Regions from separate parts of the Homo sapiens genome. Here all the other regions are linked to region 6. The links come from fine-mapping of genetic effects on gene expression. A gene starts in region 6. Each other region holds a variant in brackets. All regions are shown on one strand. Distances are between the middles of the regions. Region 1 holds the start of LINC01054 (long intergenic non-protein coding RNA 1054). Region 2 has its middle 4.5 kb from the start of CDC16. Region 3 overlaps CDC16 (cell division cycle 16). Region 4 overlaps UPF3A (UPF3A regulator of nonsense mediated mRNA decay). Region 5 overlaps CDC16 (cell division cycle 16). Region 6 holds the start of UPF3A (UPF3A regulator of nonsense mediated mRNA decay). Region 7 has its middle 3.9 kb from the start of CFAP97D2.

Region 1 (4,099 bases), 55 kb before region 6:
CACGGGTTTTGAAACTAGAAGGACCCAAACAAATCCATGAACCAGCTCTGCATACTCTCACCGAGCCTTAGTTTTCTTACACAGAAAGTGAAGACAATGCTATTTGCCTTGTGGCATCTCTGTGAAGTTAAAGAAGACACCGATTGTACACGCAGCAGTACAAGGACAGTGGAAAGCTGGGCCCTAACCAGCTCTAGGGACAATCACCATTGAATGCCCCATGATCCTACTCTCAGGATGCTTGTATGCCATATGCCATGTCAGTATCACTTACTCAGTGAACACATATTTGTTGATTATAAATTACTTCCGTACTCTTTTCTTTGTTTTACATGTTCAAATATCTGTAAAAAAAAAAAAAAAAGGTACAATTATGAAATTAAAAGTTAACTAAAGGGGGATGTTTTCACTATCTCTGAAATTTAACCCACTAAATCCAGATTATAAAGCAAGGAAATGTCTTACGGCCCAACACTTGCCATCCATATTTTTTCAAAGTTAGTGGGCAGGGCAGGGTAGTGGAAGTGAAGGAATCAGAGCTCTGATGGGTGCACATTGTCTTCCCTACAAATCCATTGCTTGTCTGGCCTTCCTTCCTTATTGGGGCTGCTCTATCCTTTTCGGCACATTTGAACTGCTCCCCTGTGAGCTATTCTCATTTGCTTCACTTCTAAATCTGAATTCCATGGGACCCGCATTTAAGGAGAGGGGAACCACTTTGGGACTGGAGGAAGTTCACCTTATGAGTTATACCTGCCTCCTTCCTCTACAGTGAACGGTCTCTGGTGTCCCTGGGTGTTCAGTTTCTTTACACTCATGTGTTACTGACTGTTCAGGTGGCAAATGGCCCATGACCTTTATGGTATTAAAGAGAAAAAAATAAAAAGCTGTGTTCCTTTTTTTTTTTTTTAACTTTTATTTTAGGTTGGGGGGTATATGGGAGGGTTTGTTATACAGGTAAACACGTGTCACAGGGATTTGTTGTACATGTTATTTCATCATCCAGGTATTAAGCCCAGTGCCCAATAGTTATCTTTTCTGCTCCCCTCCCTCCTCCCACCCTCCCCCCTCAAGTAGACCCCAGTGTCTTTTGTTTCCTTCTTTGTGTTCACAAGTTCTTATCATTTAGCTCCCATTTATAAGTGAGAACATGCTGTATTTGGTTTTCTGTTCCTGCATTAGTTTGCTAAGGATAATATCCTTCAGCTTCATCCATACTAATGCAAAAGACATAATCTTGTTCTTTTTTATGGCTGCATAGTATTCCATGGTGTATATGTAGCACATTTTCTTTATCCAGTCCATGATTGATGGGCATTTGGGTTGATTCTATGTCTTTGCTATTGTGAATAGTGCTGCAATGAATATTTGCATGCATGTATCTTCATGGTAGAATTATTTATATTCATCTGGGTATATATCCAGTAATGGGATTGCTAGGTCGAATGGTAGTTCTGCTTTTAGCTCTTTGAGGAATCACCATACTGCTTTCCACCATGGTTGAATTAACTTACACTCCCACCAACATTGTATAAGTGTTCACTTTTCCCTGTAACCTTGCCAGCATCTGTTGGTTTTTTACTTTTTAGTAATAGGCATTCTAACTGGTGTGAGATGGTGCCTCACTGTGGTTTTGATGAGCATTTCTCTAGTGATCAGTGATCTAGAGCTTTTTTCTATAAGCTTGTTTACCACATTTATCTTTTTTTTTTTTTTTTTTGAGCCGGAGTCTTGCTCTGTCACCCAGGCTA[G/A]AGTGCAGTGGCGCGACCTCAGCTAACTGCAAGCTCTGCCTCCTGGGTTCATGCTATTCTCCTGCCTCAGCCTCCCAAGTAGCTGGGACTACAGGCGACCACCACCACACCCGGCTAATTTTTTGTATTTTTAGTAGAGACGGGGTTTCACCATGTTAGCCAGGTTGGTCTCAATCTCCTGATGTCATGATCCACCTGCCTCAGCCTCCCAAAGTGCAGGAATTACAGGCGTAAGCCACCACACCCGGCCCACATGTTTGTCTTCTTTGGAGAAGTGTCTCTTCATGTCCTTGGCCCACTTTTTAATGGGGTTGTCTTTCTCTTGTAAATTTGTTTAAGTTCCTTATAGATGCTGGATATTAGACCTTTGTCAGATGCATAGTTTGTAAATACTTTCTTCCAATCTGTAAGTTGCCTGTTTACTTTGTTGATAGTTTCTTTTGCTGTGTAGAAGCTCTTTAGTTTAATTAGATCCCACTCGTCAATTTTTGCTTTTGTTGATATTGCTTTTGGTGTCTTTGTCACGAAATCTTTGCCTGTTCTTATGTCCAGGATGGTATTGCCTAGGTTGTCTTCCAGGGTTTTTATATTTTTGGGTTTTACACTTAAGTCTTTAATCCATCCTGAGTTCATTTTTGTGTATGGTGTAAGAAAGGGGCCCAGCTCCCAGCACCATTTATTGAACGGGGTCTTTTCCCCATTGCTTGTCAGAAAAGCTGTTTCTAAGGCTTTGCCCAACATACCTTTAACTTTTGACCACATCTTTCCCCCGGTCAATAGGCTCCAGGAAATGGGACAGGATTCTTGGAAATAAAGAGCTGACCCTGAGACAACGCAGGTGAACACAGACTAGCTGCTGCATAATAAGTAAACAAAATGTGTGTCTTTCATTCAATATTAAACAATGATAGACTGAGTATGTAAGAATGTTACCATCACAGGTATGGAAGTGCCTAACTATGACTTAAATTGTAGAGCCTCAGATTTTAGATCTGGAAGAGCCATGGGTTTTAATCCATGCTGGGAGAGGCTCAAGGTTACTCTGGAGAAACATGTAGTTTGGGGGGGCTGGAGACTGAGGGGAGGCTGGAGACTGAGGGGTGGGCTCCCATTCCCCAGCTCCTTCAATGAATCTATTTTATACGTCAGTTATTGGAAAATGATTCAAACAACTCAACCCAATTCCCTATTATTTGGTCAAAGCCCTCAGCCCTCAGACTTCTTGCCACTGTAGCTGTGGGCTCCCCCTCTCCACCTGCTTTCCTGCTCAGGTTGGGGCAGCCAAAGACTTTCTCTTCCTGGGGAGAGAGTTTAGGGAGGGACCATTTTTTGATTATTTGAGGGTGTGGTTCAGTTGTAAACAGTATAAGTTTTAGAATTTGTGTTATTGTGATGGCAATGACCAACTGCAAAATATTTCCCATTTGCCTTGTCATAAGAGCACGTATTTTATGCAATTGAAGTTTTTGGATCCTACTTATTTACTTTACTTTATTAAGAATAGTGACATTTGAGCAGAGTTCTAATTTTGCATCAGAGTCAAAAGTGAAAATGAAAGGAACTGACCCATGAAGGAACAGGTGTGAGCTATTTACTTCATTCCTGCCCGTCCTGGTTGATGTTGAGCTCTTGCCCTGCATCCCACTTTCAAATGTGGTAGAGGCCTCACCTAGGAAAGACCCTCTCCACGCTGGCTTGCTCTGCTCACCCAACTGTACTTACTTCTCTGAATCCCCTATGAACACTGTTTTCTAGGTTGAGTGTGTTTTCTGTAATAAAAAGGTATTGTTGCACCACTTACTGAGGACTTTTTGGATGCCATGCTAAGCATTTCATAGTCACGAGCTCATTGTACAAACTACCCTTTATAACACTCCTATGAATTTATATTCCCATATGAATTGGCCTGAGGAAGTGGCGTGCTGGAGAGATTAAGTAATTGAATGACAGCATACAGTTAATTACTGAGGGGATTTGGGTTTGGACCTGGATCTGTGATTCAAACACTCATGTCTATAACCACAAGTGCTGCCACATCATTTGCATCAGGATTTAGAATCCCTGCTGGCAGGCCTGGGAAGATGCATTGTAACCAGATAAGAGATAATTACCACATTTACTGAGTTGTGAGAACCACTGTACTGCCTCTGAGAGAATGCCAGGCGCCCCTGTGTTTGTCTCAGTGTCTCCAGCTTGAATTGCTTCACCCCTGGCTCTCGGCAATGCTGCTCCTCTCTCCTGCATGGATCACCTGCTCCTGGAATTCATTCTCCCATTTCTTAGGTTGCCACTTTACTGTAGCTTCCTAATCGAAGGTAAAGCTTTGATGCTGTGCATGTCCCAAAATG
Region 2 (4,099 bases), 51 kb after region 6:
AGCAGGGGCACAATGCTGCCAGGTTCTTTGCTAATGCACAGCAAAAGTGACCTTTGCTTCAGTTCCTAGTAAGTTTCTCATCTCTATCTGAGACCTTATCAGCCTGCCCATCTCTCCATATCACTATCAGCATTTGGGTCACAACAATTTAAAAGTCTCTAGGAAGTTCCAAATTTTCCCCCATCTTCTTGTCTTCTTCTGAGCCCCCCACATTTTTCCAACCTCTGCCCATTACCCAGTTCCAAAGTTATTTCCGCATTTTCAGGTATCTTCATACGAATGCCCCACTTTTCAGTACCAATTTTCTGTATTAGCCTGTTCTCACATTCCTGTAAAGAAACACCTGAGGCCAGGCCCGGTGGCTCATTCCTTTAATCCCAGCACTTTGGGAGTCCGAGGCAGCTGGATCATGTGAGGTCAGGAGATCAAGACCAGCCTGGGCAACATACTGAAACCCCATCTCTACTAAAACTACAAAAAATTAGCCGGGTATGGTGGCAGATGCCCGTAGTCCCAGCTACTCGGGAGGCTGAGGCAGGAGAGTCACTTGAACCCCAGAGGCGGAGGTTGCAGTGAGCCAAGATTGCACCACTGCACTCCAGCCTGGGCAACAAGAGTGAAACTCCGTCTCAAAAAAAAAAAAGATAAAAAGAAACACCTGAGACTGGGTAATTTATAAGAAAAGAGGTTTAATTGGTTTACTGTTCTGCAGGCTGTACAGGAAGCATAGCTGCTTCTGCTTCTGTGCAGGTCTCAGGAAACTTACAATCATGGCGAAAGGCGAAGGGGAAGCAGACACAACTTACCTGGCCAGAACAAGAGAAAGGGAGAGAGGGGGCAGGTGCCACACACTTTTCAACAACCAGGCCTCACAAGAACTCACTCACTATACAGTCCCAAGTAGAGGATGGTGCTAAACCCTTCACGAGCACTCCACCCGCACGATCCAACCACCTCCCACCAGCCCCACCTCCAGCAGCAATGGGCACTCCACCCGCACGATCCAACCACCTCCCACCAGCCCCACCGCCAGCAGCAATGGGCACTCCACCCCCACGATCCAACCACCTCCCACCAGCCCCACCTCCAGCAGCAATGGGCACTCCACCCCCACGATCCAACCACCTCCCACCAGCCCCACCTCCAGCAGCAATGGGCACTCCACCCCCACGATCCAACCACCTCCCACCAGCCCCACCGCCAGCAGCAATGGGCACTCCACCCGCACGATCCAACCACCTCCCACCAGCCCCACCTCCAGCAGCAATGGGCACTCCACCCACACGATCCAACCACCTCCCACCAGCCCCACCGCCAGCAGCAATGGGCACTCCACCCCCACGATCCAACCACCTCCCACCAGCCCCACCTCCAGCAGCAGGGATTATAATTCCACATGAGCTTTGGTGGGGACACAGATCCAAACCACATCACATTCTAATAGAATGACCTGGAGTCTCTATATTTGGTTAGATTTCTTGTGCTTTTCTTCCCTTCTATACCTGTAATAGCCTACAGCAAAATCATGTTTACTGATTTTAGAATGATGCCCCTTAGGTTTGTCAACCTTAGATAGAAAGATTCAGAAAATA[C/T]GAGTTAGCATGGAGTTTATTTGAGCACAAGCCCTGAGGATGACCACCTGGGAGCACAGATTTGAATTTCCCTGAGTATGCACCCAACCAGCAGCAGGTACCTGGTTGGGGGCGGGGGGTTTAAGGAGGAAAGAAAGGGCAGTTCCTGAGTTGTTTATCAAAAATTTACATTAAAACAACGTAAGCTATTGATTGACTATACATTTTTCTTTGTCTCACAGACTCCAGAAACATGAAAATAATGGGTGACACAGCAGTCAGGAACAAAATGCCTTAAACAATTGCCCCTGTGGCATGGGGAGCAGAGTGACTGAAGTTAGTCCCACACTCATGTCCTGATACATTTTGCATCCTTCAAATAGTTCAGACTGCTCTGAGCTATTTTTCTTTCCTCAGGTTAAACCTTCCATCGTTGTATTTCCTCTACCACACTTACTAATTGGTTAAACTGATAGGGCTCATAAATATTGTGTATTACCTCACACGACAAAATGGACTTTGCAAGGGGTGATTAAGTTAAGATGGGTTATGTGGGTGGGTATGATGTAATCACAAGAGTTCTTACAAGTGAAAGAGGGAGGCCGGGGGGTCAGAGTCAAAGAGACTGGAAGACGCTACGCCGCTGGCTTTGAAGATGGAGGAAGGAAAGAAGGAAGAACAGTGAGCTGGGAGTGCAGGTGGCCTCCTGAAGCTGGGAAAGGCCAGGGACGGGATTCTCACCTAGATGCTCCAGGAGCACAGCGCTGCTGACACCTTGATATCCTGCAGAGACCCATTTCAGGTAGTGATCGGAGGTTAGCAAACAAAATTAGAACTCTGCCAAATGTGTACATGCCAGAGGCTGGCTTGTCTAACAGAAGACATTCTGTTTATTTTCCTCCCCTTACATTCTCTCCCAGTATTTGCCCTTGTTAAAGAAGCTAAAATTTCAGGACCCTCTAAAGTTACTACAAGGGGGAAGTTAAGCCCTGGAGACTGAGTCACAGAGCATGTTTGCAATTCTGCAATACTGAGTTTTGTGAAATTCAGTGTGTAAAAATCTTTGTTTTGTGGTTTTAAAAGATAATTCCGTCCTTAAACTAGTTCCTGAAATACGGTCAGGAAAACAAGACTTGGATTTTCAGTATGACCAGAATATTAAACATGCCAAGTGGTTTCTCAAGAATTTAAATTACTCTGAAAGGAAGAGAGAACAATCACCCTTCTCACTGATTAGAGTGAGGTGGTATTGTCGCCACAGGAGAGCAGTTTACAAAGTTAGAGAATTCTGTTGGCTGAAACTGCAAAATGTTGAGGCTTTGAAAGAGCAAAGGCAGTGATTAAGAAGTCAATGATTGGCAGATACGTCTTTGTTGTCATTTTACAAAGACAGTTCTCAAGTTTGGAATTAACATCTATCCAAACATCAAGTCTCAATTCATCTTGCATTTCTCCACACCCTGTGGCTGCAAATCTGCTCCAGCGCTGCCTTGGAGACCTGTCCAGGTGCACCTGGACGCCACAGACGGGGCCATAAGCGTCGCCTGCAGAGTTGGGCAGAGGAAGCTCAGAGCTTCCCCGCCGGGACATGGGCACCACAATAACACTCTTAAAAAGAAAAACCCTCTGGGTTAATACCTTTCCTTTGAATTAACCTCCATCCAGGTAAAAAATGATTGATAATTAATGTTTGTTAATTAAAATTGAGGCATTCTGTTGGCTTATAAATGTTAAGCTTCGTGGCACTTACTGATGTGGAAAATAAGACCCAGCAAGGCTAACTTACCTAAGCAAGTTCCCAAAGCCGCACCTAAAACCAAGTCCCTGAGCTGACAATGGCCTCTTGGGTGTTGTACCCATTTGTGAGTATACCTGGGGTTTTAAGGCAAAAGCAGGCTGTGGGGACACCAAGAACATCAGCCTGGGGTTTGCAGCTTCCCCACTCTCCATGCCTCTTCAGAGACAATGCCCTCTGGGTGGCAGTGATCGAGTTCTGCCAGTGCGGGGAAGCTCTGCGGGGTGAAGGGAAGCCTGGAGAGGAATCTGCCAGGCCTGGCGTCCCAAGCATCACCTCCTGAAACTTCAGTAAAAGGACTGGGAGGCTACGGGAAGCAAGCTGAGCCACCCGGACAGAGCATCCTGAGGTGCCGGACGCCTTTTCTTCCTAGCATCCTGTCCCACCACCCCCAGGACACTGCAACACTAGTCATCCTGCACAGGCTCCCGCTGCAGCTTCTCAAAGACTGCTGTCCACAGACACGGGTCCAGCCCCGTCGACATGAGGGTAACAGCCAATTCAGAAGTGTCATAATCTCTAGCTGGTTATCTGATTATCTTTTTAGTATATCAAATTAACTGAATAATGCCCTCGTTTTGTGTTAGGTGGATATGAACTTTGTCATGAGCCATGAAAGTGTTCACTGGTCTCAATTTTGATGTCAAATTTGGGAAAGCACTTTCTAGTACAAGTTGTTCTTCTGATTGACTCATCCACGTGTACTTTGGTCTCCTGTGCCAGTGTTCTGCCA
Region 3 (4,000 bases), 28 kb after region 6:
TATAATTGAGAAAATCTGTCATTAGTACATCTGCCCAGTAAGAAATACTAAAGGGAGTCCTTTATGCTAAAACAGAAGGATACTACATAGGAATTCAAATCCACATTGTTGCAGAAGAGTCAAACTCTAAGAACTCGAAGTGCAGGCTTCCAGGTAACAGGTAGATTTAAGATTTTTCTGATTGGTTGAAAGAGTTATTATCAATAGTAAGCAATGTCTGGGTTATGATAAGAGGTTGCAGAGACCAAATTTTATCATGCAGATGAAGCCTCCAGGTAGCAGGCTTCAGAGAGGATAGATGGTAAGTGTTTCTTCTTATCAGACTGAAGGTCCATTTGATGTTAATGCTGGAGGGCGTAAAGAGGAGTGTTGGACCCCCACTTCCCATCATGGCCTGAACCAGTCTTTCAGGTTAAATTTAGACGGCCCTGGCCTAGAGGAGGAAGCCCATTTAGATGGTTGGGGAGGGTCTTCAAATTTTATTTTTGGTTTACAACACGAAGAAATGAGAGTCTGATAAAAATAGCTACATTGGTAATTATGAGACAGTATAAAATGTGCTTGTTTTTAACTCTTCTATCTGATTTAAAAGACAACAGAATAAATAATAATAACAGATCTGTGCTGATGGACTTATAATGTGTAAGATGTATTCTATATGACACTAACAGCACAAGGAGGCAAGAGGAAACAGCTATATCGGAGTAAGGTTTGGGCGTACTATTAAAATTAAATTGGTATTAATTCAAAGTAGGTCGTTTTAAATTAAGGTGCTAATTATAATCCTAAAGATAACCAACCTAAGAAAATAACTCAAAAGATATAGTATAATAAAAAAAGGGGATTAAAATGGGACATTATAAAATATTTACTCAACACAAAAGAAGAAATACAGGAACAAAAGATGTGATGTATAGACAATAAAGAACAAAACGCCAGACATAAATCCTATCTTGTTAGTAATTAAACATAAATGGATCTAACTGTATGTTGTCAACAAGAGACATGCTTTAGATTCAAAACACAAGTTGAAATTAAAAGAATGAAAAAAACCACACCATATAAACAGTAACAAAAGAGAGCTGGTGTGCCTACAGTAACATCAGATGAAACAGACTTTATAAAAAAAAGTATTATTAGAGATAATTAGTGATATTTTATAATGATAAAAGGCTCAATCCATCAAGAAAATACAACAATTATAAACATGTACACACCTAACAACAGAGACTCAGAATATATGAAGTGAAATGTGCCGGAATTGGAGGGAGAAATACACAATTCAACAATAAAATCTGGAGACTTTAATACCTCACTTGCAATAATGCAGAGAATAAATAAGTAGAAGATCAATGAGGAAAGAGAAGACTTCAACAACACTATAAAATCAGATGTAACAGGTATCTATGGAACACTTCACCCAACAAGAGCAGAATTCTCAAATAATCTGGAACAATCTATAGAATGGCTCATAAAAAAGCCTCAATAATTTTTTTCTTTTTTTTTTTTTTGAGATGGAGTCTCACTCTGTCGCCCAGGCTGGAGTGCAGTGGTGCGATCTCAGCTCATTGGAACCTCTGCCTCTGGGTTCAAGAGCTTCTCCTGCCTCAGCCTCCCGAGTAGCTGGGACTACAGGCGTGAGCCACCACACCCGGCTAATTTTTGTATTTTTAGTAGAGATGGGGTTTCACCATATTGGCCAGGCTGGTCTTGAACTCCTGACCTCAAGTGATCCACACCCCTCTGGCCTCCCAAAGTGCTGGGATTACAGGTGTGAGCCACTGCGCCCGGCCAGCCTCAATAAATTTAAAAGGACTAAAATCACACGAAGTATGTTCTCTAACTACAATGGAATTAAGTTAAAAAACAACAAAAGAAGAAAATTTGGGAAATTCTTAAATATGTGGAAGTTAAATGTCAACATATTCTTAAATAACCAATGACTCAAAAAAGAAATCATAAAGGACACGTAAAAATATTCATCCAATTTCAAACATTTATCCAAACACAGACAAGTTAAGAAAATGCAGAGCTGCTCTGACAGATAAGTAAACTTGAAAGAAAAATAATGCTTATCTTGATGAGCTATCATGAGGTTTTTGAGATGTATCTCAACTGGTCACCCAGGCTGGATTGTGGTGGCACAGTGACCATCCTGCCTCAGTTTCCCGCATAGCTGGGATTACAGGCAGGCACCATCAAACCCAGCTAATTTTAAATTTTTTTTTTGTAAAGATAAGGTCTCACTATGTTGCCAGGGCTAGTATCAAACTCCTGGCCTCAAGCAATCCTCCCACCTCAGCCTCCCAAAGTGCTGGGATTACAGGTGTGAGCTACCACACCTAGCTTAATGTGAGAATTTAATGACAAAGTTTGT[T/G]AGATTTGGAAACACTGAAGGTATTGTGTCATTAATTATCATTGATTCTGATTCCCAGCTAGGAACTAACTAATAACTATTCTGTTTCTGAGAACCCAAAATATCAAATAAAAATTACCAGACTGTAGCATATGCTCATAAAAACCAACTCATAGTGAATTATTGAGATTTTTTTTTTGGTAACAAATTATCATATTGATACATAGGGGAAATATGCAGATACTGGAGCTGAGCTTCAGAAGAGAACTGGAAAAGGTCTCACTCATCTTGGTGAACAGGATGGAGAGACCTGGACTGAGTATGAGGACCATTTAGGTGGATCCATAACTGGGTGTGCAACTCTACTCTGGAAGGTTATTTTCTAGTAATATATTAGTGCTATGGACTGTTTGTGTCCCCTCTGCCCCCCAAATTCATACATTAAATCCCTAACCCCTACTGTGCCTGTACTTGAAGATAGGGCCTATGAAAAGATAATAAAGGTTACATGAAGTCCTAAGAGTATGGCTTTTACCCAACAGGGCTAGTGTAAAGCTCTTATCCAACAGGGCTAGTGTAAGGCTCCTTTCCAACAGGGCTAGTGTAAGGCTCTTATCCAACAGGGCTAGTGTAGGGCTCTTATCCAACAGGGCTAGTGTAGGGCTCTTATCCAACAGGGCTAGTGTAGGGCTCTTATCCAACAGGGCTAGTGTAGGGCTCTTATCCAACAGGGCTAGTGTAGGGCTCTTATCCAACAGGGCTAGTGTAAGGCTCTTATCCAATAGGGTTAGTGTAGGGCTCTTATCCAACAGGGCTAGTGTAAGGCTCTTATCCAACAGGGTTAGTGTAGGGCTCTTATCCAACAGGGCTAGTGTAGGGCTCTTATCCAACAGGGCTAGTGTAGGGCTCTTATCCAACAGGGCTAGTGTAAGGCTTTTATCCAATAGGGTTCGTGTAAGGTTCTCATCCAATAGGGCTAGTGTTTTTACAAGAGGAAGAGACACCAGAGCTCTCTCTGCCATGTGAGGACACAGCAGGAAGGCAGTTATCTACAAACCAGGAAGAGACTCCTCAATAGGAACTGCACTGGCCAGCACCCTGATCTTGGACTTCTCAACCTCCACAACTATGAAAAAATAAATGTCCTTTAAGTCACCCAGTCTGTGGTATTTTGTTATGGCAGCCCTACTGACTAATACAGCTAAGGAGCTATGATACTTACCAAGTTACTATGACTACTGACTGAGGTGGGTACTAATTTAAACGCAGAACTGAGTGACAAAAAGAGCCTAACAGTTTGCAAAGAGACCAAACCTAACAGGATGACATTCAATACAGATAAATATATGATTCCACCCCTGCATACAAGTAAATAAACACAAGTAGCTAACTTTCACTGAGTGCTTTCTATGTGTAAGACACTCTTCAAAGTCTTTAATTGGTATTATCTCAATTACTTCTCACAATAAGCCAGTGAGTAAATTTTGCTATTATTCCTATTTCTCAGGAGGCTAAAAAACTTGCCCAACGTCACATGGCTGGGAGTGGAAGAGCCAGGAAGAGTCCAGGAGGTATGACTCCAGACCAGGCCTCTGGACCACTGCACTCCCACTACCTCTCCAGGCAGGGATGCAGTCATCAGTC
Region 4 (4,062 bases), 21 kb before region 6:
ACCAGGGGGTTTAACTTAATTTTCTTTTCCTTGGTATGAACCTGACCAATGGGAGGGGTGGGAACAGGCTCAGCAGGCCCCTGGACAGGCTGCCTGGAGCCAGCACGCATAGCTCTGTTTGTTTTTCTTTTTTTTCTGAGACAAAGTTACACTCTTGTTGCCTAGGCTGGAGTGCAATGGCGCAATCTGGGCTCGCTGCAACCTCTGCCTCCTGGGTTCAAGTGATGCTTCTGCCTCAGCCTCCTGAGTAGCTGGGATTACAGGCATGTGTCACCATGCCCGCTTAATTTTTGTATTTTCCGTAGAGATGGGGTTTCACTATGTTGGCCAGGCTGGTCTCGAACTCCTGACCTCAGGTGTTCCACCCGCCTTGGCCTCCCAAAGTGCTGGCATTATAGGCATGAGCCACCGCACCGGGCCGACAATTCTGCTTCTTACCAGGGCAATACCTGTATACACAGATGGAGCATGGAGCCTGACCTTAGAAGTACATGACAAATGCCAGGCTCCCGGGAAAGTAGCTCCTGCACACAGCGCCTCATTCCCACCACAGCACTGTGAGGCTAAACACAGGAGCAAATGCTCCCCCACCTCAGGTCGGGGGAAACACCAGGCCATTCACCACTGCTAAAATAAGCCAACTGAAGACTGAGGACTCCTATGAGCAACGCCCTATCAAAAAGACGCATGGCTGTACTTTGTGCACCCCGAGGTCCAGGCAACCCCAGAGAACTGGAGTATTCTAGAGGTGTTCATTCAAGGGTGAAGACAAGAAGGCTCTCCTCTGGCTTTCAGCCTTGACTTCACTGAAACTTTTTTTTTTTAGAGGTAATTTTGCTTTTCTTGCCTAGGCTGGAGTGCAATGGCATCATCTTGGCTCACTGCAACCTCCGCCTCCCAGGTTCAAGCAATTCTCCTGCCTCAGCCTCCTGAGTAGCTGGGATTACAGGCGCGCCACCACGCCCAGCTATTTTTTGTATTTTTAGTAGAGACAGGGTTTCGCCATGTTGGCCAGGCTGGTCTCGAACTCCTGACCTCAGGTGATCCACCCGCCTCAGCCTCCCAAAGTGCTGGGATTATAGGTGTGAGCCACCATGCCCAGCTACACTGAAACAGTTTCAAAGTGAACATCGTTCATACACACAACAACCTGGAAGGATCTGAAAGGAATTAGACTGAGTGAAGAAAGCCACTCTCAAAGCTCACATACTGTGTGTTTCCATTTATCAAGCATTCTTGAAATGACAAAATCACAGAGGCAGAGAACAGACAGTGGCTGCCAGGGGTTAGACATGGGGAGGGAGGTGAGTGGGAACTGGAACCCTAGGCAGCCCTCAGTTTGCTAGGAGGCCAGGGTGGGGCCTGGTGCTGTCAGAAAGGTGATGCCATCTGTAGTGCTGCGCTGGGAAAATGCAACCTGAACAAAAATTAGCTCCTGAAAAAAAAAAGTTGTTTGCTTGGCTAAGGGGGTAACCACAGTCCTGTGCTCACCGTCCGTGCAGATCTAACTTACAGGTGTTTGTGAGCCATGGGAATATTCACCAATAATCAGAATGTTGTTAATAATGTGGAAGAAACCTCCATGAAATATCATTAAAACTTTCCTTCCTGTCTCAAGGGTAAATTTAATAATCTTATTCTCAAGTGAATCATATAAACGTGCTAGTTTTATACTAAATAAAATCTTTCTTTTTCCTGGTGAAAAATAATTTGATTATCTGAGAAAAGATGATGACTAGTCTCACTCTGGGATCTGACTTTCAGGAAAAACTGCTCTTGAAAATGCTCAAAGCACTGCGTTCCCCAAGACACAAGGCCAAGTGGGGGTGACATGGTCAGCATGCAGCCTGGACCTTAAGACAGCCAGACACATTTTTCTTTTTGGGTTTAATAAAAACCTTGTTTGCCAGTCGCTCTTTTCTGGGTGCTGGACTGTCGTCACACCTCTGCGCTCTTCCCAGTCTCTCCATGGCCTCCCC[C/T]GGAGCCCCGCTGTCCTGGCTCCCCTTCTTCCCTCTGTCTTGGCCAGGTCCTTTCCCCCATCTCTGCTCATCCTCACTCCTTCTGGAAAGCCGTTCAGGCTCGTGGTGAGCTCTGTGCCTCCTGCCGTCATCCACATGGTATCTTTGTGCTTCAGATTCTTGTTCTTGAGATCTCTCCACATCCCTGTGCTCTTTATCACTGCCGCTGTGTGACCTATGATTCAACACAAATGATCAGCAACTGCAGTAAACCGCCGGTTGGCTGCCCACCCTCCTTTCTAGACCACAGGTTCCCAGACAACAGGGACCCATGCGAAGTGCTCAGCGCTGCACTGCTGAGGCTGCACTGCGATGGGCACACAGCAGGCGTTGATAAAAACCACTACAAAGAGGAATAAATCATAGTAATAGTATCTGTCATTTCAGTTGAGTGACAGATAGGCAATATGCCTTATACTAAGGTACTTTTTTTTTTTTTTTCTGAGATGGAGTCTCGCTCTGTTGCCCAGGCTGGAGTAAAATGGCGGGATCTCAGCTCACTGAAAGCTCCGCCTCCTGGGTTCACACCATCCTCCTGCCTCAGCCTCCCGAGTAGCTGGGACTACAGGTGCCCGCGACCACGCCCGGCTAATTTTTTGTGTATTTTTAGTAGAGACGGGGTTTCACTGTGTTAGTTAGGATGGTCTCGATCTCCTGACCTTATGATATGCCCATCTTGGCCTCCCAAAGTGCTGGGATTACAGGTGTGAGCCACCGTGCCTGGCCATGCTAAGGTACTTTTTATACATATTTTCTAATTCTCAATAACCCTCCAAAGTAAATACCTTCTTTTGACCAGGCATGGTGTCTCACGCCTGTAAATCCCAGCACTTTGGGACGCCAAGGTGGGTGGGATCACCTGAGGCCAGGAGTTGGAGACCAGCCTGGTCAACATGGTGAAGCCCCCTCTCTACTGAAAATACAAAAATTAGCCAGGTGTGGTGGCATGTGCCTGTAATCCCAGCACTCTGGGACGCCAGGGGCAGGCAGATCATTTGAGGTCAGGAGATTGAGAGCAGCCTGGCCAACATGATGAAATCCTGTCTCTACTACAAATACAAAAATTAGGCCAGGCACAGCGGCTCACACCTGTAATCCCAGCACTTTGGGAGACCAAGGCAGGCAGATCTCCTAAAATCAGGAGTTCGAGACCAGCCTGACCAACATGGAGAAACCCTGTCTCTACTTAAAATACAAAATTAGCCAGGCATGGAGGGGCATGCCTGTAATTCCAGCTACTCAGGAGGCTGAGGCAGGAGAATTGCACGAACCCAGGAGGCAGAGGTTGTGGTGAGCTGAGATCGCACCATTGCACTCCAACCTGGGCAAGAGGAAAACTCCGTTTCAAAAAAACAAAAAAAAAACAAAAATTAGCCAGGCATGGTGGCGGGTGCCTGTAATCCCAGCTACTTGGGAGGCTGAAGCAGAATTGCTTAAACCTGGGAGGCGGAGGTTGCAGTGAGCCGAGATCGTGCCACTGCACTCCAGCCTGGGCGACAGGGCGAGACTTTGTCTCAAAAATAAAATTAAAATAAAATAAAATAATAAAACAAAATAAAATAAACCTTCTTTTCTACAGATAAAATGACTGAGACTAAAGTGGTCCAGTGGCTGTCCTGGGAGCCCAGGTGCACATCCATCATGATGTGCAGAGTAAAATTAACTGACATTTAATAATGGCAGATTAATTATCTTTATGCATTTATCAGAATATTAAATGAATAGTAAATAAATGGCTGCTTCGCTCATTTGCCAGGGCTGTTGGGGACCATAAGGATCTGTAACCAAGTATGAATTCACAGCAGACACGTGGCAGTAGGTCCTGCTGTGTCATCAACTGTCACAGTAACAACACCGGTAACATCATCACAGTGCTTCACAATCATGGATTTGATAATCATATATAAATTTTATAAACAAAGCAATAAACCAAAACTCCCAAGAAGTAGAAAAAATACTTCATCAACTCTGAACGAAAGGCAGTGAGAAATCACACCTACGACTATGGCTCTGGGAAGCCGGCAGCCTAATCGCATTAGTCTTC
Region 5 (4,000 bases), 43 kb after region 6:
GTAAGGCTTACAGGGATTCTTTCTGAATAATAAAAATATTCTAAAATTGACCATGGTGAGGTTTGCAAAGCTCTGTGAATACACTAAAAGGAATCAAACCATACAGTTTAAATGGGGGAACTGCATGGCATATAAATTATACCTCAATAAGTTTTTATTTTTTTTTTTAAATCCAGATTAGTGATCTGTAAATGTCACTTAATAAGTTACTATATGATGTCTGCCAGCAAGGAATGTGCAATTTCATGGAGATATGAAGTATACAAACTGAAATATACACAATTACATAGCAATGTACTTTGAAGCAAACAGAACACAAAACCATTTCCTGGAAAGAAACAATGTACGCTAATCAAAGTTTCTTGGTGTAGGTCCAAAACACTGCTGAAACACAGAAAGGAGAAGAAAAATTATTCCACTTTTAGGGAGTAGCTTAAGGCATCAAATATGAGAAGGAAGTTTCAAGCCAGCCTATTTTGGATGCAGGCATCTGCGGATACAATTACAGCTTGCAACTAAGGGCTCAGAAATGTCTCAGAATCTTTTTTGGTTTTGGTGGGCAAATTAAATAAATTGGCAACCACAATTGTTTTAATATAGTAATAAGTAAAAGAAGATAATGTGTTTCTGCCACGTAATGAGGGCAATTCTCGCCGCCGTTACTGAGCTGTGCTCACAGTACTACTTACTGAAGACTGTGACATTTCCCAGTCGCTGGAAGGATCTTTGAAGCCACTTTCGTCCTTCAAGTATTTTTCAAATAATCTTTTATTGATGGGCTCTTCCATGTCAAGAACATCAAGGGCCTGCTGGTGCTCTTTTGCAGCATACTACGTGGAAAACAGAAGTGCCGCTCATCACTCACGACTTCTAACACGAAACACATGATCCGAATTTTTAAAGGATAACATATACTATGCCCATTATTTAAATGTGAAATGTCTAAAGTAGAATTTTCTTCATGCATGTCAGCATGTGGTAAACGAAGAATCAGTATTTTATAGCAAACATGACTAAGGAAAGGAACACTTCCTCATGAAATACTTTACTAACCTGCTAAGCTCCATCACTAAAATTCTCACACATATTTAAGAGATGCATAACACTCATTTTATTCAACCAAATAAAAATGAAATTATGAGCATACTTACATGGCACCTAGCTGCAAGGTAACGACATGCTTCATACAACTAGGAAAGAAATTAATTTGTTTAAGTAGTGGTCAAAATAATATGTATCTTCACTTTCAAAGAAAGCCATAAGCATAAAATAGAACTAATTTCATAATTTCTCCTTTTACTCTTGCAGTTAAAAAAAAAATCCAGTCCTGTTAAACCATATTTATTATGAACCTACTGTTTACTAGGCACCAAGGATTCAAAAGCAGTAAGGCCCTGCCCCAGGAGGTTACAGTAGGGGAGATGTGAACTAAGCACAACAGGTAAGCATGACGAAACGGGGCAACAGAAAGCATCAACCAGGTGGAGAAGTAAACATCTGCAGGAGAGCGAGTAAGTGAGGCAGCGAGTAAGTGGTCAGGCAGAGGAGTGGAGCACTGGGTAGCTCTTCAAGCACTGAGTGTGAATAACTGCTGGGGGTCCAAGGAGATCGCAGCAGCTCCACTTCAGGCACTGAGTGTGAATAACTGCTGGGCGTCCGAGGAGATCGCAGCAGCTCCACTTCAGGCCCTGAGTGTGAATAACTGCTGGGCGTCCGAGGAGCTCGCAGCAGCTCCACTTCAGGCCCTGAGTGTGAATAACTGCTGGGCGTCCGAGGAGCTCGCAGCAGCTCCACTTCAGGCACTGAGTGTGAATAACTGCTGGGCATCCGAGGAGATCGCAGCAGCTCCACTTCAGGCCCTGAGTGTGAATAACTGCTGGGC[G/A]TCCGAGGAGCTCACAGCAGCTCCACTTCAGGCACTGAGTGTGAATAACTGCTGGGCGTCCGAGGAGATCGCAGCAGCTCCACTTCAGGCCCTCAGTGTGAATAACTGCTGGGCGTCCGAGGAGCTCACAGCAGCTCCACTTCAGGCACTGAGTGTGAATAACTGCTGGGCGTCCAAGGAGATCGCAGCAGCTCCACTTCAGGCCCTGAGTGTGAATAACTGCTGGGTGTCCAAGGAGCTCACAGCAGCACCACGTGACTGGAGCACGTGCTCCAGGTATTGATGGTGGTGGATTAGACGCAGAGTGGAGAGAAAACAAGGAGGGCCTCACAGACCTACTGATGCATCTGACTTTATCCTGCAGCTAATGGGAAGTCACTGAATGACTTTGTGGGAATATAACCACATCCGTGTTTTAAAGACTACTCACTCCTGTAATAGTTCACAAGATGAACTTGTGACAGGGAAGATAAGAAGAGAGAAACTGTTACTGGGGAAAAGAGACAAGAAGAGAGGCTGTAACAGAACAGACAAAAAAATCAAAGGCCTGACACGTACGAGTGGGGAGGAAGAGGAATATCCATGATTCCAGAGCTGTTTAGAAAACAGTCTTCAGAATTTAGAGACTAGATGGGAGATGGGGGAAAAAGAAGGTGACAGATTAGGTATAAGACATTTTCCCTTCACTTTCACTAAAAAAAAACTGGGCCTACTGTGATGACTCACATCTATAATCCCAGCACTTTGGGAGACCAAGGCGGGAGGACTGCTTGAGACCAGGAGTTCAAGACTAGCCTGGGCAACATAGTGAGGCTCTGTCTCTACCAAAAAAATTTAAAAATTAGCTGGGTGTGGTGGCATGCACCTGTAGTCCCAGCTATTAGGGAGGCTGAGGCAGAAGGATCACTTGAACTCAGGAGTCTGAGGTTATAGTGAGCCACGATCATCCCACTGCACTCCTGGGTGACACAGAGAGACCTCAAAAAAACAAAAACAAAGAAAAATTGCATCAAGTTAAATAATTTCAACAGAAATGGAATATACACCTAAAACCCTAATGACTTTTTTTTTTTTTGAGACAGAGTCTTGCTCTGTTGTCCAGGCTGGAGTGCAATGCACGAACTCAGCTCACTGCAACCTCCACCTCCCAGGTTCAAGTAATTCTCTGCCTCAGCCTCCCGAGTAGCTGGGATTACAGGCGCCTGCCACCACGTCCGGCTAATTTTTGTATTTTTAGCGGAGATGGGGTTTCACCATCTTGGTCTTGAGCTCCTGACCTCATGATCCACCTGCCTTGGCTTTCCAAAGCGCTGGGATTACAGGTGTAAGCCACCGCGCCCGGCCACTAATGACATTTTTTTTAAAGCTCTGAAGAGCTTTAAAGTTCATACCATCACTTACTTTGTCCAGTTTTCGTGACCGAAGTGCATGGGCGGCTCTGTGATATTGTGCTGTCAGGTAAAGACACTGAGCCAACCAATAGATGTCCTGGGGTTCTTCTGGAGGGAAAAATTCACATAAGTGGTCAGAGGTACAAGGTGAAATAGAAAACGAATTTTAAGATTAATCAGAAAACCAGTTAGCATTTTGTCACTTACCACGAGAGAGTGAAGCTACTTTATCTGCCCAAAATAGAGCACTTTGATACTGTTGCTGCATACCAAAAAAAAAAAAAGGTGGTAACTGCCCTGTTATTTTAATAGTCTTAAACAGTTATCTAATATTATTATAATTCTATGTAATATATTAATATAATTCTATGTAATAAATCTTCATCTCAAGACAACAATTTGTTACATCTCTATCTTACATCTCACGTAGGGTAAATTTTAGTTCAGTGTCGCAATACAAACATTCCTGTAATATCTTTGTATATGCAACTTATGAAGGTAATTTTTTAAAACTCATACACTGTAAAAATGTATCGTGAAACATACAAGTGAAATGCAAGTGAAACAGCAAAAGCTAGTCATTAACAATTCATGTGTGATTTATATAACACTTTCAACGAGCTGTTAATGAATCCCAAAGTGAAATTTAGAAGACAGAACACTATACTCAAATACCTTATATAACACAGTGGCAGTTTTAATAACACTCAAGTTTAAAAACACACAC
Region 6 (4,099 bases):
CACATAATTACAGTAACATAATCAAAATTTATAAACTTATTTTAGTCTGAGAACTTTTTAATTAAAATGCACAAATAGACCGGATGCTGTGGCTCACGCCTGTAATCCCAGCACTTTGGGAGGCTGAGGTGGGAGGATCACTTGAAGCCAGGAGTTCAAGACCAGCCTGGGCAACACAGTGAGACCCCCGTCTCTACACAATTTTTTTTTTAAATCAGCCGATCATGGTGGCACACGCCTGTGGTCCCTGCTACCTAGGAGGCTGGAGGATTGCTTGAGCCGCAGTGTGAGGCTGCAGTGAGCCGTGATTGCGGCTGCTGCACTCCAGCCTGGGCAACAGAGCAAGACCCTGTCTCAAAAAATAATAATAATTTAAAAAGCACGAATATTCTAGCAATACTTCATTAGTATACCTACAGATTATAATAGATTTTTAAAAACCAATAATCCAACCTTTGCTGTCAAGGAAGATATATCCATCAAAACGATCTCTAAAAAGAAGGATGTCATCAGGATTCCTAAAATTAATGTATGCTCTTGAGTAGAGATGAGGATAAAGACTGAAATAAGAGATAACAGTGAAAATGGTCAGTGAAAAATACAATAGTCCATTAATTTAGCCTCTTTTTCCTTTTCTGGGCACAACAAACTACTTTAGATAAAACTTTTGTGCCAAATCATCTCAGTTAATTGTAACAACTTGGATATTCTTTAGCAAAAACAAACGCAAAACGTTAACTTTACAAGGCAGAACTCAGGTCCCTTCTCCACTGCCCAGAACCGGTCCTCCGAGGCTGAAACCCTAAGGCAAGGCCAGGGCGCACTCCCAGAGGAACCCGTGGCGCCGAGAGACTCTCCTGACTTGGGGACCTTCTCCGGTATTTAAAACCGCACTGGCTGCGGCACCAGCGTGGAGGCCACAGGAAGAGCCGGCGCCCCCCGGCCCCGCAGCGCCCCGTCCGCGGACGAGCAGGGAAGCCCGGGAGGCGCCGGGCGGGCAACGCTGGTCCTTTCAAAGGCACCCGCTTTCCTAAGCGTTAGCCGTCTGAAAATCATCCGCATTTTTCATGTAAACCACATCTGTGTTTCTTTGTTGGTGGTATTTTTCTTTGACGGAACGGACACGTTTTACTGAAATGTATTTATTCAAAAAGCTCACACGACTCCCATATAGGAGAAATCAGGGTAAGGAACGTAAGGCAACGAGACGGCCACCGCCGCCGAGCTCTGGGTTCCGCCCTCTCTTCCTCCCCTCGGGGCGGGCCTCACCTCAGGTCGGCGGCGAAGAACTCGAAGTAGTCGTGTGCTGGCAGCGGGCGCAGCTGCTCCTCCAGCTGCTCCTTGGTGAGGCCCGGAGGCAGGCGGCGGATGACCACCTGCGGGGAGCGCGCGGCCGTTCCCACCGGGGCGGAGCGTGGACAAGGAGCTCAAAAGGCACCGCGTACCGCGCTGGGAGGCCCGGCCCCCGCCCCTCCCTCCCCTCCCTCCCCTCCCTCCACTCAGGGCCGTCCTCTCCTCGCGAGGTTTGCGCGCCCCGCCCCCGTCCCCACCTTGCTCAGGGCCGTCCTCTTCTCCTCGCGAGGTTTGCCCGCACCGCCCCCGCAACCGGAGGACGAAGTTGGCGGCGTCTCAGCCTCCTGCTGCTGCGAGTCGCGGTGGAACTGCACTTCTAGGGCCGACAGCTTCTCCCTCCCGCTCGGGCCCCGCGCGGCAACGGCCGCCCGAAGGCCTCCGGCCCCCTCCTTTTCCGAGCGCATGCCGCACTCTCCGCCGAGCCGCAGCCGCCAGCCCCCGACGAAACCTCGCGAGAGCTCGGCCGCCCCAGCCCCGCCCCTCCTCGAGCCGCGGCGGTCGGGGCCGCCCACGAAGGGGTCAGGCGCTGCGGGACTAGTCGGGGTCGGGGTGGTGACCTCCGGCCACACAGCCTGGCTTTCCGCCGGGTCAGGCGGCCCCTCAGGGAGCGGCGGCCGCGGTTTAGGGCGGCCCCGGAAGCGGGGCGCCGGCGGCTTTGGTCCGGGCGTGGTGGGAGGAGTTCGCGGACAAGCCGCCCTCCCATCCCAGCACCGTTTTTATCCCACTCCCCCAGGCTCTCCGTGGCCGGGGCGCCATGAAAGCCGGGTTCACATTTGAATTCTTAATTTTTTTGGAGACAGTCTCGCTCTGTCGCCCAGACCGGAGTGCAGTGGCGCGATCTCGGCTCACTGCAGCCTCTGCCTCAGCCTCCTGAGTGGCTGGGACCTACAGGCACGCGCCACCACCCCTGGCTAATTTTTTTGTTTTTTTAAAGTAGAGACGGGGTTTCACCTTGTTGGCCAGGATGGTCTCGGTAACTCCTGACCTCAAGTGATCCGCCCACCTCGGCCTCCCAAAGTGCTGGGATTACAGGCATGAGCCACCGCTCCGGGCCCTTGCACATATTTTTTTATGAACACACAGGCAGCAGCACTTTGATTACAGTAACTTACATGGAAGTTATTTTAAAATGGCTTTCCCCTTCTCTTTTTCATGTAGGCTGCATTTTTCATCTGCAGCACGCTTTCTCTCAAGAATCTCAAGCACACACAAGAAACCAGAGAGTAAAATCACTGAGGCGTGAACACATCCAGAGACCAAGGGCGTCACTGGCAGAAAAGCTTTTAGGCGGATCCACGGCCCGAGAGCCACCCTGCCCAGAGACGCGGTTTCCTAGGAGCAGTTCACACGCGGCTCTGCAGCACCCACAAGCGGGGCCAGGGGCTGGTTTTCATAGTTCACAGTCTGCAGGGATCTTAACAAAAACATGGCCGTGGTAAAAGTGCCTAGACCAGGCTTTCGTCACAACTCAGTGAGTAGGAAGACTAGTTAGGCTGATGAAAAGCTCTGATGATGTGTGATTAAAAGTAGGAAAACGTGGTTGCCAAATAAAATATTTTACTATATAGTCAGGGGGAGAGATGGGGATAAAAAAATGTGGAAACCATTTATTTTAAAATTTTGACTGTTCCTGCAGTGTTTAAAATATAGGAGATATATTCTGATTATCTTTAGAAAGAAACTGCTCTCAATCTATTTGTATGTCTTCCCTCTGGTTTTAAAATATTAAACAATCATCTAACTCAATATTTAATTTTACCTCTAGTCATGTTACTAGGTTAGGATAATAAAAAGGACTGTGAACTTCACATCTGCCATCTATAATAGATTCTTATTGTAGCAATCTTGCACCAAGGGGATTTCTTTATTAACTCTGCCAAATTTTCCAAAATTACCAAATGGAGAAAAGAGCTGGTCCCATCTGTCACCAGGCACAACCAGGTCAGTAACTTAGGGTATTTCTTGTGTTCATGTTTTGCCCTCACCACTGCAAAGCCCTGTTCTCGGCCTGGTGCCTCTGCACACCTCTGAAGCCAGGTTGGCCTCAGCCAATGTGAGGGACCCTTCATTTGACCTTCCCCAGAACCTTGAGTATTTCCACTTCTCCCTTCACTGCACTGTACCCTAAAGGGACTCACATGTTTGCTGGATGTGTATATTTCGTAAACCTAGCCAGCAAAATGTCCAAATGTTTTTCCCCCCAAGTCAATTTTTTAACACCCTTCTGATTCTTTACTTCCTGTTATTGCAAAGTTCTGAAAAATGATTTTGAAAAAAAGGTAGGATTTTAGAATTCAGCTGTTTGATGAAATTATCTTTAAATAAAACCATATGAATTTTAAGATACAGTGAATGAAATACACTTGTAAAATAGCTTATGATTTTACATGACAAATTATATCACAAAGAAAAGCTAGCTTCCTACACATTAGCCAGCCTGTTGAAATGCTCTGTTTGATACATGTACAGAACTTTACAGCCAAAGCAAAGCAGGAAGAAATATCTCCAAATCCTTCTTCATGTGGGCTTTTAGTATGTAACTTTACTTTTGCTTAACTGAACACTTCCATCTGTGAATGTGGCCCTGGGCTACATTTTACTTGGTAGCCCCTATCTCATTGGTAGATGACAGTGACTTGAAGCTGGTGACCGTAACACTTCCCAGTATTTCCTTTAACGATAACACAGCCACTGTAGTTAGCAAACAGGACACCTTTTTAGGATAAACTGTGTCCTGAGATACTGA
Region 7 (4,099 bases), 110 kb after region 6:
AGGGAAGGAGTCCCAGCTGCCACCCAAGGCTGTCACTCACAGCTGCCACCCTCAGGGAAGGAGTCCTAGCTGTCCACCCACAGCTGTCACCCATGCTGTCCACCCATGGCTGTCACCCACAGCTGTCATCCACATGGAAGGAGTCCCAGCTGTCCACCCACGGCTGCCACCCATGCTGTCCACCCACAGCTGTCACCCACAGGGAAGGAGTCCTAGCTGCCACCCACGGCTGCCACCCATGCTGTCCACCCACGGCTGTCACCCACAGCTGTCACCCACAGGGAAGGAGTCCCAGCTGCCACCCACGGCTGTCACTCACAGCTGCCACCCTCAGGGAAGGAGTCCTAGCTGTCCACTCACAGCTGCCACCCATGATGTCCACCCACGGCTGTCACCCACAGCTGTCCACCCACAGCTGTCACCCATGCTGTCCACCCACGGCTGTCACCCACAGCTGTCCACCCACAGCTGTCACCCATGCTGTCCACCCATGGCTGTCACCCACAGCTGTCATCCACATGGAAGGAGTCCCAGCTGTCCACCCACGGCTGCCACCCATGCTGTCCACCCACAGCTGTCACCCACAGGGAAGGAGTCCTAGCTGCCACCCACGGCTGCCACCCACGGCTGCCACCCACGGCTGTCACTCACAGCTGTCACCCACAGGGAAGGAGTCCTAGTTGCCACCCACGGCTGCCACCCATGCTGCCCACCCACAGCTGTCCACCCACGGCTGTCACCCACAGCTGTCCACCCACGGCTGTCACCCATGCTGTCCACCCACAGCTGTCACCCACAGGGAAGGAGTCCTAGCTGCCACCCACGGCTGCCACCCATGCTGTCCACCCACGGCTGTCACCCACAGCTGTCACCCACAGGGAAGGAGTCCCAGCTGTCCACCTACGGCTGCCACCCTCGGCTGGCCTATGGTTACCTGCAACCCACTGACCACTCGACTCACGTCTGCTCTTGGACTTGACTGACGGCAGGGCCCATGGTACAGAATCTGCAAACATCAGACATGTTGCTAAAGACCCAGGAAAATCAATCACCCCCAACAACATGCTCTGGATTTCAGGGCACCACAGGGCTCCAATCAAGTTTTGCTTCTTAAGATCAGACCAGACAAGGCAGTTAAGCAGCAGCTCCTTGGCATCTGTCCTGAGGACTAATGAAACACTGACAAGGGCTTGCACACATGAAGCAACACTGCATGGAAGTGAGCTGCAGTCTGGGGTCCAGTGTTGAGAAGCAGTGCGGACTTCCACCGTGCACCTCTGTTCCGGGATCCAAGCCATGGCACCACACTGCATTTTGTGATTTCTATATTAAGTGGAGAATTATTTTTTATACTGGGCTAGGTTTGGATGTTTGGTATTATATAGTTTCTACTTATATTCTACAGAAAGTAAATACCAACGCCTATTTTTGACTTTGATTATCCAGATTATATTTGGGTGTTCAGCTGCTGCCTTAATCAATATTTTGGCCCAATATTAAGTTTAACGTTTTGTTTCTTAGAAATGCCTTGAAATGTCACCAAGTGATATCCTGAAATGTGGAGGCCGTTACATAGAACAGCTTACTATGTTGCATGCAATATGTAAAGTATTTGCTATATGACACATATTAACTCAGTCTTTAATATTCATAATTCTTTTCCTGTGTCCTTAACTCTAAATCCAAGCTTTGATTTTTCTGTTCTGCCCTCCCACAAAAGGC[C/A]GTATCTTCAAAACCAAGCAGCAACTTCGTTCTCATTCTGCAGAAGAGTGGTTTACAAACAAATCTCCAACCACTTCAAATTCACTCAACCTTCAACCTTTGGAGGGCAAATGTGCTTGCAAACATTGATTTCCAGAAAAGGTAACTGTGTCTCCAGTACCTTCTGTGTAGTGCAAATCACTCAAGAGCTGAGCTAAAGAAGCTGGGAGTCACCACCACCAGGAACTGCTGCGTGACCTGCTTAAGTCGACCCTTCCACTGAACAAAGCCAGAATCCTGGAGGCCATCTTGCATATACTGAAGAGCCCACCCAGGAGTCAGGAATTTTGAGGCTGTGGTCAAAAAAATCTGTCAGACCCCCGAGCCAGCACTCAGAGGGCTTCTCCTGAAGGCACTCAGGATGCCAGCGGTGGGGTCTTTGTGGGGGATGGGGCAGGTGGGCAGTCTTCATAGGAGCTGAAGTCTTCACCCTCAGGAAAACGTGGATCAGAAATAACCCATCCTTCAACAACTGCCAGGTTACAGCAGAGCAGGGGACAAGACAAGGAAGAGCCCTGCGGCCCAGGTTCACACAGTTGTGAAATTAGCTTAATGTCACAGTGCCTAAAAAACCCTCAAGTCGCGAAATTATCTTAACGTGGCCCTGGACTGATGACATCTCAAGATGCTGCCAACTTTCCAGTGTCTCAGTGCACCAAACATCTTGCAAAGTGAATCAATCCTGCAGAGAAGACACGACTAGCACCACAGGAACCTTGGAGCAGATGGCTCAGACACAGATGATAAGACTCACTCTGCTTCAAGGCACAAAAGACAAAATCGGAAATAGCTGCAGAGTACAGGAAACCATAAAAGTTTTCAATACAGAAAGAATGTTTACAACATTTGCAAAATTTGACCGTATGCTGGGCCATGAAAAAGTGTCCACATGTTTCAAAGGGCTGAAATCATACAGATAATGTTCACAGTGGCAGAGAGCCAGGAATTCATAACAAAAGATAACTGGGAAATCCCATGTTTGGAAACTAAGCAATGCAATTCCAAGGTCAGGAACAAGACAGGGATGTCCCTGTGGCCTTCCCTGATACAAGAGGAGCTCTTTGGATTAAGTGGATTAATGTGTTAGGGGTCTTGAACTGTCCACCTAAAAGGAAATTCAAAGGAACAGGCTCTCCAGAACAAATAAATTTAAGTGAGAATAGCACGGGATTGCATGCTATGATAGATCACAGGCACACTGGAGGGGCCAGGGCAAAGGGGAGATCTTTAAAGACAGAGAGAACTCCACAGAAGCTGCTTTGTAACAAAAATCACTGGTTAGCAGAGCTTGTCCCAGAGCTGGCGTTAGCTCCTTGTGCAGGCCGCTCACCTGTAATACCGACCTGTCTTGAGGAATTTTCGTGCAATGCATCCTAATATGGGCGAACCTGAGGCCCGTGCAGGGGTGCCTTGAGATGAGGCTTGTCCAGGTGTTTGTGTATGAGGGCGCCCCGTCATGGCCTCCCCACCCCATTTTGTTAGAGTTTGATATGAGTGAACCTATTTTGGTACTAGCAACTTTCACAGAACAGAAGGAGTTCAATTTGCTGGTAATTAGTCATGGTGGTGTTAACTGCAGCCTTACTCATGCAATCATTTCTCAAGAACCCTATTCCTGGGACGATTCACTTAGGTCTCAATCCCACTCTGGAAATAGTCTTAAAAAATTGATGCAGAAGCATGTGAAAGCTGAGTGTATAAACACATGAATTCCAGTGTCACTGGTTTACTGTTGCACAGAGCTGGAGCTGGGCCCACTCCACACAGAAAGTGATGGGGTGTGGTGCAGCCACTCTTGTGATGACTGGAAAGACAAACCCAGCAAGATATGCACAAAACTGCTCCTTTTACCAGTAAGTGGGGAGCTGAGCCCAGAAGATACCTTGGAAAAACTTCCTCTTACTAGCATGTGAGAAGCTGAGACTGGAAGACACCTTGGTAAAGTTAATTTGTTATAGGTGTGTTAAAGCAACTAAATATGGCCCAAGAAGGACTCTGTACTTCCAGATTTATGAGTCCTTGTGGATAAACTGCAGCCTAACTTAATAGGTAGACAAGATTGAAAACCTAATTTAGGAGTCTGAGCCTGTAACAACAGCTGAGTCTTGGCCAATTCCAGCAGCTGTACTTCAACCACTCACCCTGCTGAGTGTCCAAACTGTGTTCAAATAAGGCAAACCCTGAGCTGTAACCAATCCAGCTGTCTGTACCTCACTTCCAATTTCTGTACGTCAGTTCCCTTTCTTTGTCTATAAATATTCTTCCACTACATGGCCGTGCTAGAGTCTTTTCGGATCTGCTGTGATTCTGGGGGCTGTCCAATTTGTGAATCCTTCAT

Evidence for each region. PIP is the estimated chance that this variant, and not a neighbour inherited with it, causes the effect.
Region 1: its variant is fine-mapped to the expression of UPF3A in whole blood (INTERVAL, PIP above 0.99).
Region 2: its variant is fine-mapped to the expression of UPF3A in whole blood (TOPMed, PIP above 0.99).
Region 3: its variant is fine-mapped to the expression of UPF3A in whole blood (INTERVAL, PIP above 0.99).
Region 4: its variant is fine-mapped to the expression of UPF3A in thyroid (GTEx, PIP above 0.99). The same link has a PIP of 0.9 or more in tibial nerve.
Region 5: its variant is fine-mapped to the expression of UPF3A in whole blood (INTERVAL, PIP above 0.99).
Region 7: its variant is fine-mapped to the expression of UPF3A in whole blood (INTERVAL, PIP above 0.99).

Annotation. Positions count from the first base shown.
Region 1 is chr13:114,333,802-114,337,900 of GRCh38, reverse strand. LINC01054 (long intergenic non-protein coding RNA 1054) reads left to right here and starts at 3,953. Exons shown (of 3, transcript NR_126391.1): 1 at 3,953-4,066. The variant G/A (reference allele first, on the strand shown) is at 1,752.
Region 2 is chr13:114,228,350-114,232,448 of GRCh38, reverse strand. No RefSeq gene overlaps it. Among named protein-coding and RNA genes, the nearest start is that of CDC16, 4.5 kb to the left of the region's middle. RefSeq lists an enhancer at 3,616-4,099. The variant C/T (reference allele first, on the strand shown) is at 1,593.
Region 3 is chr13:114,251,200-114,255,199 of GRCh38, reverse strand. The region is part of intron 12 of CDC16 (cell division cycle 16); the gene reads right to left. It overlaps LOC105370384 (a long non-coding RNA gene), which reads left to right. Exons shown (of 4, transcript XR_007063887.1): 3 at 3,864-4,000. Among named protein-coding and RNA genes, the nearest start is that of MIR548AR, 8.7 kb to the right of the region's middle. The variant T/G (reference allele first, on the strand shown) is at 2,378.
Region 4 is chr13:114,299,862-114,303,923 of GRCh38, reverse strand. It overlaps UPF3A (UPF3A regulator of nonsense mediated mRNA decay), which reads right to left. Exons shown (of 10, transcript NM_023011.4): 9 at 1,899-2,193. Among named protein-coding and RNA genes, the nearest start is that of CHAMP1, 13 kb to the left of the region's middle. The variant C/T (reference allele first, on the strand shown) is at 1,980.
Region 5 is chr13:114,236,180-114,240,179 of GRCh38, reverse strand. It overlaps CDC16 (cell division cycle 16), which reads right to left. Exons shown (of 18, transcript NM_001078645.3): 2 at 3,481-3,535; 3 at 3,284-3,381; 4 at 1,152-1,190; 5 at 690-830. Among named protein-coding and RNA genes, the nearest start is that of CDC16, 3.3 kb to the right of the region's middle. The variant G/A (reference allele first, on the strand shown) is at 1,883.
Region 6 is chr13:114,279,298-114,283,396 of GRCh38, reverse strand. It overlaps UPF3A (UPF3A regulator of nonsense mediated mRNA decay), which reads right to left and starts at 1,796. Exons shown (of 10, transcript NM_023011.4): 1 at 1,551-1,796; 2 at 1,270-1,376; 3 at 454-560. The coding sequence starts at 1,757. It overlaps LOC105370384 (a long non-coding RNA gene), which reads left to right and starts at 2,328. Exons shown (of 4, transcript XR_007063887.1): 1 at 2,328-3,294. RefSeq lists silencers at 779-988, 1,369-1,548, 1,779-2,048 and enhancers at 1,128-1,815, 2,269-2,568.
Region 7 is chr13:114,173,267-114,177,365 of GRCh38, reverse strand. No RefSeq gene overlaps it. Among named protein-coding and RNA genes, the nearest start is that of CFAP97D2, 3.9 kb to the left of the region's middle. The variant C/A (reference allele first, on the strand shown) is at 1,723.